3 linked regions of the Homo sapiens genome follow. The protein of the gene in region 3 interacts with the protein of the main gene of each other region in a pairwise test. Each region holds a gene or a part of one and is shown on either strand. Other genes may lie near its edges.

Region 1 (3,650 bases), on a different chromosome or scaffold from region 3:
GTAGATCTGGAAGTCATTCCCAGCTGATTGGAGCAGGAAACTTATCCTGCATTGATGCTGTTGGGGCTGGAGCTTGGAGCCAAGGGTAGTGGCCTTGCCAGTTGCCATCTGGCTGCACAAAAGTCTGTCAGCTGCATCATCATGTATGCATTTATCTGTCTTAGAACTTTTAACCAATAAGTGATTCACCAGTTCTCTAGCAGGAAATTGTAGGCCTTGGTATCTTCCTCCTTCTTTATTCCAAAGTAAAGCTGTGGCCTTTGGATTTCTAAATGGCAAGAAATGGCAATTTTGCATTATACTCTCCGTTATACTTCACACCTGTATATAAATGCTTCCAGGTATAACTTGTTCAGAATGTTCTGTGTCTTGTCAGGATTAAATTTTATTGCAAAGAATCTAAAATCTTTGTGTGTATTTTGTTTAATTTCAGGGTAGTATCCACATGCCATTCTTTGGTGGTTGGTATTTTTGGCCTGTACATTTTCTTATTCGATGAGGCTACTAAAGCTGATCCACTTTGGTAAGCTGTTTCTTTTTCTAAGATTGCCAATTTCATTTATGTTTTGATATTAATTATTTATAAGAACATCACTTACTTTAAAACAGAAAACATATTGATCGTATATGCCTTATTAAAATGCTTGTGCTCAGACATTCTAGCAAAGTGCATTTAAATGATTTATTTTAGATTTGAACACAAATGAAGGCCATTTTGCCTTAGTGTAGCAATTGTTATCCAAAACAAGGAGAATATGATGATAATTTAAACATTTTTACTGTGTTAATGAGTAAAGCCAAGTTATTGTAGTCACAGTTCTGAAGAAAAATAAATCATTATTGAGATAGGGTAGTCAACTTGGATAATATCTACTTAAGACTTTTTTGTCTCCAATTTATGTTTGACTCATTTGATATCAAAGAGATGAAATGAGAGTTACAGATGGCCATGTGATAGGAATTTAGTACCACAGGATTTGAAGCACTAATGCACTAATAATAACTGTGTTCAGTAGTAATAGGATAACATGTAAGATGGTCCTTTTAGAAAAATTTAAATGTCATTCCAATGGCAGAAATTTTGCAAACTGTTTCCTGGTGTTATATGAGAAGGCTTAGTTCAGCTTAGTTTGAGAGAGCAGGCATGTTTGAAGAAGCACTGCACTGAGATGAGGTAGTTGTGGGCTCCGGGGGATGTAGGGCAATTTAGCCTTTTCTTTTGACCACCACCATTTGACTGCAAGGACGTTTTTCTATTCATAAATATAAAATTATTCCCAGAAGAATAATATCAGTATTGATACATTTTCATTGGGATGCTGTTTTTCAAAGAGAATTAATTTATTGAATTTAATTCCATGACTAGGTTTTTAAATAGTCTACCTACAAAATTTCTAGCTTTTTAAAAATTTTCGTTTTCATTTTACTAACGTGACCATCAGCAAAATAAAACCAGTTCTTTTGGGAAGTAAATTTCATAACAAAGATTTGATTCATTGTTCAAGTTTTGCCTTATCGAACTTTAACATAATTTTTGATTTGAATTTTATGTCATGATTTACTCCAGGTCAAATTTTCCTGGTTATATTTACAGATCAAAATTTGTAAAGAAGGCACAACTTGTGCTAAATCTTTCTATTAAATATTTGTAGTCCAGCTATTTTAGTTAGTGTTACTTTCACTAGTAGTTCACTTTGTAACTATCTTACTATGTAAGATAACAGCAGTAGTTACCTTACTGCTAACACCAGTACCACATGATGCGTCACAGTTTGGCTAAACTGTCATTGTGTGTTTTGCAATTTTATTTGAAGATGACAGCTTACCATTTGAGAATCTATAGAAAGCAATTTTATTATATTTAAATCTCTATAGAAAAAAGAAGTAGCGGTCATCTACAATCTATATACTTTAAAAAGGAACCTTTTTTTTTTTTCAGGGGTGGTCCATCACTTGCAAACGTGAATATTGCTATTGCCTCAGGCTACCTCATTTCTGGTATGTGAGATGTTGTTTTATTGTCTAATTCCTTGTAAACTACTCACGGAATTATACAAAGAATATATAGTCTATGCTTTTGGTTTATTTGAGAGATAGCATTTAGGAAGCATACAGAGGAAAAAAATACCTCCCATGATGGTAGAACATGAAATGTCTTTTCATGAAATGGTTTTCTGTTTCTCACTGAAGATCAGAGTTACAGAGTGATGCCTCAAACAACTGAGGCCTGGACATTTTTTATCAGCAAGGATATGGTCCCTCTTTGTCCTAATGAGGCTCTTAAGTGTAATGACTGTGAAACTAACGAAATTTAACTTTTAGGGTCCCTCACTTGCAAGAGTTCTTGAAATGTGTTCCAGTAGTCATGGTTTTGTGTTGTTTTTGTAAAATTTGCAGAAGTAAGCTTTTTTCTTTGTTTTTCTTTTTAATAGTTATAGTTTTTGGTGGCGTCACTATTTTGAATTAGTATTTAATTGCATTCTTTTTTATTTTTAAAATATTTTTTGTACGATTTGTTTTATAAATGAGTTGGTCATTTTGTACCTTCCCTATGACCATCTTATCTCTGTTTGAATTATTGTAGTGACAAAAATCAGTCACTTAAGCTTATTTAAAATTATTTCTATTCAATAATATTTTTTGTTTATTTTAACTCTGGAAACAAGTTATTCATTTATGCTTTCAACAAATATTATATTACATATGATTAGGTTGGTACAAAAGTAATTGCAGTTTTTGTGATTAAAAATAATGGCAAAAATCACAGTTACTTTTGCACCAACCTACATGCCAGGCCTTGTGCTAGATTCTGAGGGTTTAAAGATGCTCACAACCTGGCCCTTGTCTTAGAGGAGCCACAGGAGTGTGGATGAGACAGGCATATAGGAGCAGAGATTTTATGGTAAAGTAGATAATCAGACTAACTGAGGGATGAACAAAGTGCTGTGGGCTCAGAGTGGACAGTGATGAGTTGGCAGGAGAAAGAGTTCAATACATTTGAAAAACAGTGCAACTTTCTTCTTATGTAATACCTTACTCACTTTTCTTTCTTACAGATTTGTCCATTATAATTTTGTATTGGAAAGTGATTGGTGACAAATTTTTTATAATGCATCATTGTGCGTCCCTGTATGCATACTACCTTGTACTGGTGAGTTCCAGGATTTTCTGTAGCCTAACTAGCAGACAAGATTGGGAATAGTGATGTAAAGGTGAACATAAATCTAAACATACAATTCTTAGTTTTTAAAGACCATCTCCAGATGCATTCAGGGATTGCTTTTGTGGTATGCTATCTTCTGTATTAACTAAAATAATACCTTTATGTGTGTCTGTGTTGGTGTTGGTGTGTCTGTTTGTATTCATAGATTTTGAGACAGACAAATGACCCTAATTCTTTGAATTTCCATTTAAAACCTTCAGGATTGTTGTAGCTATAGATATTTGTCTGTATTTCTAGATGCATTTATGATTTAACAGCAAAGAGTATGAGCCAGCGAAAATATTTCTTTTCTGTTTAATTCCATGTGCAATTACATATACATAATTACATTTAAGTAGGTTGGAGCAGTGGAGAAATCTTGCTCAGACTTTTTCAGAATTCCAAGACCAAGGTTAATAGAGGATTCTTCCAACAGATCTCAGGCAGT
Region 2 (3,650 bases), on a different chromosome or scaffold from region 3:
ACCCCAGAGGGGCCTTCATGTTGGAGCCAGAGGGCATGTCCCCCATGGAACCAGCGGGCGTTTCCCCCATGCCAGGGACCCAGAAGGGTGAGGGCTTGGATGCGGGGGGCTTGGTGGGAAGGAAGGGAGGGTCTTCTGGTTGGACTCTTGTGGGGTGCCCTGTGCTTGCCACCTCTGGTCTTGGGAGCTCCCTGTCTCTGGGTGCCTGCTCTAGTCTAGACAGGTTGGCTGGTGCTCATCCCACCCATCTGCTGTGCCTTGATTACAAGTTAACATGGTCTCAGTGCCAGAGACCTGGTGCCTGGCTCAGGGCCCTGCTGTCTCCCCCCAGCCCAAGGCCTGGAGTCTGCTGGTCTCTGCCCTCCTGCTGGCCCCTTGGAGAGGCTTGTTGAACACCGGGCAGGGACCATCTTGGAGAGGGGCTGGGCTGACCTTGTCTGATCCCTGTCTCTCCCAGACACCGGGAGGACTGAGGAGCAGCCAATGGAAGTTTCCGTGTGCAGGAGCCCTGTCCCAGCACTCGGCTTCTCCCAGGAGCCAGGTGAGAAGAGAGCTCCCCGGTGGGACTGGCAGGGCAGCCAAAGAGGGGACCAGGGAGGCAGCACCCAGTGGACAGGGCTCCAAGGGGCTGCTCTCAGCTGCCAGCCTCATGCCCCTTCTGTGGCCCATGGGAGTGAGGCCTCGCCCCGGGGAAGCAGCCACAGCCCCCGGTGAGCCTCAGCCCATCTTGGTTCACTGACTGCCCTCTGACTGCCCTCCTGGGTCTCCTCTCTGGGCAGATGTGGATGGCTGCATTTAAAGAGGAACATTTGCTAAGAAATAAAATGAACCAAGCAGAGCACAGAGCACAGGAGCACGACGAGGATGGTGCAAGGCACCCGCCAAATCCTCTGGGCTCCGTGACTAAAGCTGAGGGAGGAAGTAGCCATCAGGGTCCCTTTGGTGCCGTCTGGTCTCGGCACTCCTTGGAGCTGATCACTCTCTTGCTCCCTGCCTAGGCCCCTCTCCAGAAGGCCCGATGCCCCTGGGTGGGGGCGAGGACGAGGATGCAGAGGAGGCAGTAGAGCTTCCTGAGGCCTCGGCCCCCAAGGCCGCTCTGGAGCCCAAGGAGTCCAGGAGCCCGCAGCAGGTGGGACCCACATGGAGGCCTGCAGAACCTGAGCTGTGAACTGGCAACCCTGGCTCTGGGGCCGAGTCACCTTGCACAAGGAGGACAGTGGTATGGCCTTGGCCCCAGACCACTGGTCTGGGGCAGAAGCCCACCTGTCTTGCAGCCCGTCCTGCAACCAGCCCTTTTGAAGAGCAGCTTCTGTGTTCCTCCCCTCTCTGAGCAGAACTGATGCTCCTCAGAGTAGTGGGCTGGCGTCCAAGGATTTGAGCCCTGTCGAGCTCACGGCAACCTGGGATGGCCGCCGGTTGCCAAGGCGCCTCTCTGCAGTCGGGCTGGTAGGAGGGAGTGTCTGGAGGCCATTGCTGCCTCCCTCAACCCCCGGGGTCAACTGTACCCAGCCTAGAGCCAAGAAATCCTTCCTTTTTATTCATTAAAACAAAATCAACCTGATGCATACAGAGGAAATGTTAACGTTTCTTCACTCTAGTTGGTAGATGGCATGGATATTTGTCATATTCTATTCATTTTTCCTAGTTTTGAAGAAGAGTACCCCGTGACCACTGTTTGTGTTTTCTGTTTGTTTTTTGAGATGGAGTTTTGCTCTGTCCCCCAGGCTGGAGTGCAGTGGTGCGATCTTGGCTCACTGCAAGCTCCGCCTCCCGGGTTCACGCCATTCTCCTCCCTCAGCCTCCCAAGTAGCTGGGACTACAGGCGCCCGCCACCATGCCTGGCTAATTTTTTGTATTTTTAGTAGAGACGGGGTTTCACCATGTTGGCCAGGATGGTCTCAATCTCCTGACTTCGTGATCTGCCCGTCTTGGCCTCCCAAAGCACTGGGATTACAGGCGTGAGCCACCACGCCCGGCCCACTGTTTGTGTTTTAAAGTTTTTCTTAGGGTTTTTGTTTTAATACCCCCAGAGAGTACTAGCAGGGTTTATTTTTATCTTATTTTATTTATTTATTTTTGAGACAGGGTCTTGCTCTGTTGCCCAGGCTAGAGTGCAGTGGCCTGATCTTGGCTCATTGCAGCCTTGACTCTCTCTAGGCTCAGGTGATCCTTCCACCTCAGCCTCCCGAGTAGCTGGGACTACAGGCGTGTACCACCACACCCGGCTAATTTTTGTATTTTTTGTAGAGACGGGGTCTCACTGCATTGCCCAGGCTGGTCTTGAACTCCTGGGCTCAAGTGATCTACCCGCCTTGGCCTCTCAAAGCACTGGGATTATAGGCGTGAGCCACTGTGTCCGGTCCCTGTAGGTTTTTTTTTTTTTTTTGGACGGAGTCTTGTTCTTTTGCCCAGGCTGGAGTGCAGTGGTGTGATATCGGCTCACTGCAACCTCTGCCTCCTGGGTTCAAGCGATTCTCCTGCCTCGGCCTCCCGAGTAGGTGGGATTACAGGTGTGCGCCACCACACCCGGCTAATTTTTTTTGCATTTTTAGTAGAGGCGGGGGTTTCACCATGTTGGCCAGGCTGGTCTCAAACTCTTGACCTCGGGTGATCTGCCCGCCTTGGCCTCCCAAAGTGCTGGGATTACAGGCATGAGCCACCACGCCCGACCCTTGTAGGGTTCTTGATGTTAACCCAAGGTGGAGTTCCTGGGGTACCCAGAGCCTTGAGGGGAGAAAGAGGAGAAGTGGGGACCCTGTGACTGTCTTTGCAGAGTGCTGCCCTGCCCAGGAGGTACATGCTGCGGGAGCGGGAGGGGGCCCCAGAGCCTGCATCCTGCGTGAAGGTAGGAGTGTTGGGGCCCTGACCCCCGGCAGGGAGGGATGGGCGGATTCGAGGACTGGCTGCCTGCCCATCATGCTCTTGCTCCTGCTGGCCTGTGGTGTTCCCAGCCTGTGGCCCTTTGCACTTGCTCTCTTAAAGACCCCCTCATGCGACTCTGGGCTCCCACCCTCTCTCTAGTGTTCCCCTCTGTGATCCAGGATTTGAGTGTGGTCGGCTCTGCCCCAGGCTGTCACTGCACTTGTTGCCTGGGCTTTGGGAAGGCGGCTGTGCACCCCCTACTCCTCTGGGAGGGTGGCTGTGTACCCCCTACTCCTTTGGGAGGGTGGCTGTGAACCCCCTACTCCTCCTTTGGGAGGGTGGCTGTGCACCCCCTACTCCTCCTTTGGGAGCGCGGCTGTGTACCCCCTACTCTTCCTTTGGGAGGGTGGCTGTGCATCCCCTACTCCTTTGGGAGGGACGGCTGTGCACCCCCTACTTCTCCAGCGCCTTCTTGTGCTCTGTGCCCAGGAGACTCCAGACCCCTGGCAGAGCCTGGACCCCTTTGACTCCTTGGAGTCTAAGCCCTTCAAGAAAGGTAATTGGGTGGAAGGTACCTCCACTCAGGTACCCCTGGCTGGGTTTCCTGGGGCATGAGGTGGGGGGGTGGGAGTGGGCTTTGCACCCTGATCCCCCAGCGGCTCTAAGACAGTCCCTGTTTGCCCCCAGGTAGGCCTTACTCTGTGCCCCCCTGTGTGGAGGAGGCTCTGGGACAGAAGCGCAAGAGGAAGGGCGCTGCCAAGCTGCAGGACTTCCACCAGTGGTACCTG
Region 3 (3,650 bases):
TCTGTCGCCCAGGCTGGAGTGCAGTGGCACAATCTGAGCTCACCGCAATCTCTGCTTCCTGGGTTCAAGCGATTCTCCTGCCTCAGCCTCCCAGGTAGCTGGGATTACAAGCCCTTGCCACCACGCCCGGCTAATTTTTGTATTTTTTAGTAAACACGGGGTTTCACGATGTTGGCCAGGCTGGTCTCGAACTCCTGGCCTCAGGTGATCCGCCCACCTTGGCCTCTCAAACTGTTGGGATTACAGGCATGAGCCACTGCGCCAGGCCGAACAAAGCCATTCCTAAGAACTTTTTGTTAAGCTAGTGCACATGGGTTGTTACCATATCCACCACTTGGAGAAAGACCGTCTGAAAGAAATCAAGGACAGCAAGGCTTGAATATACTGATTACGTGGTGTGAATCCTGGGAGTCAGCCAGTCTACCTGAAGCAAACTCATGTCAAGCTATCCTATTTTCCACATCCCCTTATGCTGCCTGGGGGAGGCCTGACTTGTTTTTCTGTCACCCGCAACCACAAGAGTTAAAGGATTTTTCAGAGAATGTCTAAAGTTATTTTCCCCCAAAATACCCTGAATCTGTTACCTCTTGAGGCCAGAACTCTCTTCCTCCTTGCTGGTCTTCCAGATAGTCACGGATGATGTTTGTTTTCTGCAAAAACAGGCCCATAGAGTTGGCACGTTCTGTATCTTCACCAACTAAGGGGTCTTCAAACTCTGAGGCTGAGAAAAGACGGGAAAGGCCAATTCCGACCAGCCCAGCAACATAGTGGCAGTACTGTAAGAGACGATTTTTAAAGCACTTTAATAATGGAATTTTTACTGAAATGGACACACTAGAGATCATTAGCTACAAAAAAGCAGGTTCAAAAGAGAATGGGTAAGAATGCATTTTGATTTTAAAATACAAATATACATACCAGGATTTAAAAAACATTCAAGAAGGATGTGCTCAAAACATTTCATAGCAGTCTCTGGCTGACGGGAATTTGATGTTTTTATTTTTCACTTGTATTTTCCAAATTTCTACAATACACATGTACTGCTACTATAATAAAAGGCTACTGAAAAAAACTAGTAAACATTTTTTTATTTTTATTTTTTATTTTTTTTTTGAGATGGAGTCTCATATATTTGCCCACGTTAGACTCAAACTACTGGACCCAAGCAATCTTTCTGCCTCAGCTTCCCGAACAGCTGGGATTGTAGGCAAATACCACCGTGTCTAGCTTTACAATAACTTTTTTTTTTTTTTTTTTTTTGAGATCAAGTCTCACTTTGTCCCCTGGGCTGGAGTGCACTGGCACAATCTCAACTCACTGCAACCTCTGCCTCTTGGGTTCAAGTGATTCTCCTGCCTCAGCTTCCTGAGTAGCTGGAATTAAAGCACCCACCACCACATCCAGCTAATTTTTTATTTTTAGTAGAGACGGGGTTTCACCATGTTGGCCACGCTGGTCTCGAACTCCTGACCTCAACTGATCTGCCAGCCTTGGCCTCCCAAAGTGCTGGGATTACCAGCCCAAGACACCGTGCCCGCCCTAGCTTTACAATAAACTTTTTGATACATAAAACTATGAGAGAAGGCAACGATGAAAGATGGAATATTCTGGTAACAGGAACTAGGACAATACCAACTATGGTTTAATCTTTTTTTGACCAATCTGATAACATGTCAAGATCCGCAGGCCCTCAAAATCATCATTATATGAAAGAACAAATAACTATTTTATGTTCTTGACACGGTTTTAAGAACTCTGCACATTCAGCCGGGCACGATGGCTCATGCCTGTAATCCCAGCACTTTGGGAAGCTGAGACGGGCGGATCACGAGATCAGGAGATCAAGACCATCCTGGCTAAGACGGTGAAACCCCGTCTCTACTAAAAATACAAAAAAATTAGCTGGCCTGGTGGCGGGTGCCTGTAGTCCCAGCTACTCAGAAGGCTAAGGCAGGAGAATGGCGTGAACCCAGGAGGTGGAGCTTGCAGGGAGCCGAGATCGCGCCACTGCACTCCAGCCTGGGCGACAGAGTGAGACTCCGTCTCAAAACAACAACAACAGAAAAAAAGAACTCTGCACATTCAATCCTCACAAACATTGTATCAGGTACATAGCAGTATGATCTCCATTTCAGATGAGGAAACTGAGGCACAAAGAAGTCGATTTAACTTGCCCAACATTGCCCATGTGAGAAAAAAAAAAAATTAGCCAGGCACAGTGACACAGGCCAGTGGTCCCAGTTACTCAGGGGGCTGAAGTAGGAGGCTCGCTTGAACCCAGGAAGGTTCAAGGGGCTGCCGTGTCTGTGGCAGGGGCTAAGAGTTCAAAACTAGGTAGTATGACTTAAGTGTCAGGCTTTAACAACTTTGCTAAAACTTCCCCTTTTCTTTTTAGTTTTTCTTTTAGAGACAACGTAACTTCCCCTCTCTCAACAGAGATTTCAGTAAATGCAACTCTTAATTGCCAAATACTTTTTTTTTCCGCGACAGCAATTTGTCAAAAGCTGTCCTCCTCTGAAAAGGGTATCCTAAGACAACTTAATGCAATATCCACATACAATAATTGTCTATTAGTTAACTTAAGAAGCAAAAGTAAAGAAGGTAAGCTCTGGAGTGTCATTAGGAAGGGTAAAAGTTAGGAAATGACCGAAGTTCACGCCTGTAATCCCGGAATTTTGGGAGGCTGTGGAGAGGGGACTGCTTGAGCCCAAGAGTTTTAGACCAGCCTGGCCAACAAAGCAAGACCTCATCTCTGTAAAAAATTTTAAAAGGCTGAGTGTAGTGGCTCACACCTGGGAGGCTAAGGCAGGTGAATCGCTTGAGCCCAGGAGCTCAAGACCAGCCTAGGCAACACGATGAAACCCTGTCTCTACCAAAAAATTACAAAAATTAGCCTGGTGTAGTGGTGTGGACCTATAGTCCCAGCTAATGGGGAGGCTGAGGTGAGAGGACTGCTTGAGCACAGGAGGTGAAGGCTGCAGTGAGCCTTGATCATGCCACTACACTCCAGCCTGGGTGACAGAGCAATACCCTGTCTCAAAAATAATAAAAATTAAAATAAATTAGCCAGGCATGGTGGCAACGTGCCTGTGGTCCCAGTTACTCAGGAGGCTGAGGGCAAGGAAGATTGCTTGAGCCCAGAAGGTCAAGGCTGCCTTGTCTGTGCCACTGCATTCCAGTCTGGGTGACAGAGTGAGACCCTGTCTCAAAAAAAAAAAGTCGTCTCTGACTGAAAGTAATACAAAGCCAGAGACTAATCAGGGGGAAGAATGCACAGGTGAAGAGAAAGCACTTGAAATTTGTTCTGGGACAAAAGTAACATGAAAAGAGTGAAATCTTGCTGAAATTAGGTAGACAGAAATTGGCTTTGGACAGCTATACAAAATCTTCAAAAGAATTACTAGAAATTTAAAAAAAAATTAGTATATCTATAGTACTATCCAAAAATATATTTGAAGATAATAGTTCTTTTGGTAGAAATACTCCTAAAATGGAGACTTATATAATTCATCTTCCCCCAAAGTAGAAGAAAAAAAATAACTCCTTGAAATAATTGGCTGGTCATGCCTGTAATCCCAACATTTGAGAGGCCAGAGTGGGAGGACTGTTTGATGCCAGGAGTTTGAGACTAGCCTGGGCAACATGGCAAA

The links.
Region 1: the proteins of FDFT1 (region 3) and TLCD4 interact in binary tests that used the Homo sapiens proteins (3 or more experiments, as listed by UniProt).
Region 2: the proteins of FDFT1 (region 3) and NCAPH2 interact in binary tests that used the Homo sapiens proteins (3 or more experiments, as listed by UniProt).

The regions. Positions count from the first base shown.
Region 1 is NC_000001.11:95,148,269-95,151,918, forward strand, and holds part of TLCD4 (TLC domain-containing protein 4), read left to right. Parts: intron 1-433; coding exon 434-523; intron 524-1,939; coding exon 1,940-1,998; intron 1,999-3,056; coding exon 3,057-3,151; intron 3,152-3,650. Other genes in the region: TLCD4-RWDD3 (TMEM56-RWDD3 protein), read left to right, coding at 434-523, 1,940-1,998, 3,057-3,151.
Region 2 is NC_000022.11:50,518,192-50,521,841, forward strand, and holds part of NCAPH2 (condensin-2 complex subunit H2), read left to right. Parts: coding exon 1-87; intron 88-457; coding exon 458-541; intron 542-998; coding exon 999-1,129; coding exon of another isoform or gene 1,130-1,168; exon of another isoform or gene 1,169-1,561; intron 1,562-2,773; coding exon 2,774-2,845; intron 2,846-3,351; coding exon 3,352-3,418; intron 3,419-3,549; coding exon 3,550-3,650. UniProt on the Homo sapiens protein: Regulatory subunit of the condensin-2 complex, a complex that seems to provide chromosomes with an additional level of organization and rigidity and in establishing mitotic chromosome architecture.
Region 3 is NC_000008.11:11,823,150-11,826,799, reverse strand, and holds part of FDFT1 (squalene synthase), read right to left. Parts: intron 777-3,650; coding exon 585-776; intron 1-584. UniProt on the Homo sapiens protein: Catalyzes the condensation of 2 farnesyl pyrophosphate (FPP) moieties to form squalene. Proceeds in two distinct steps.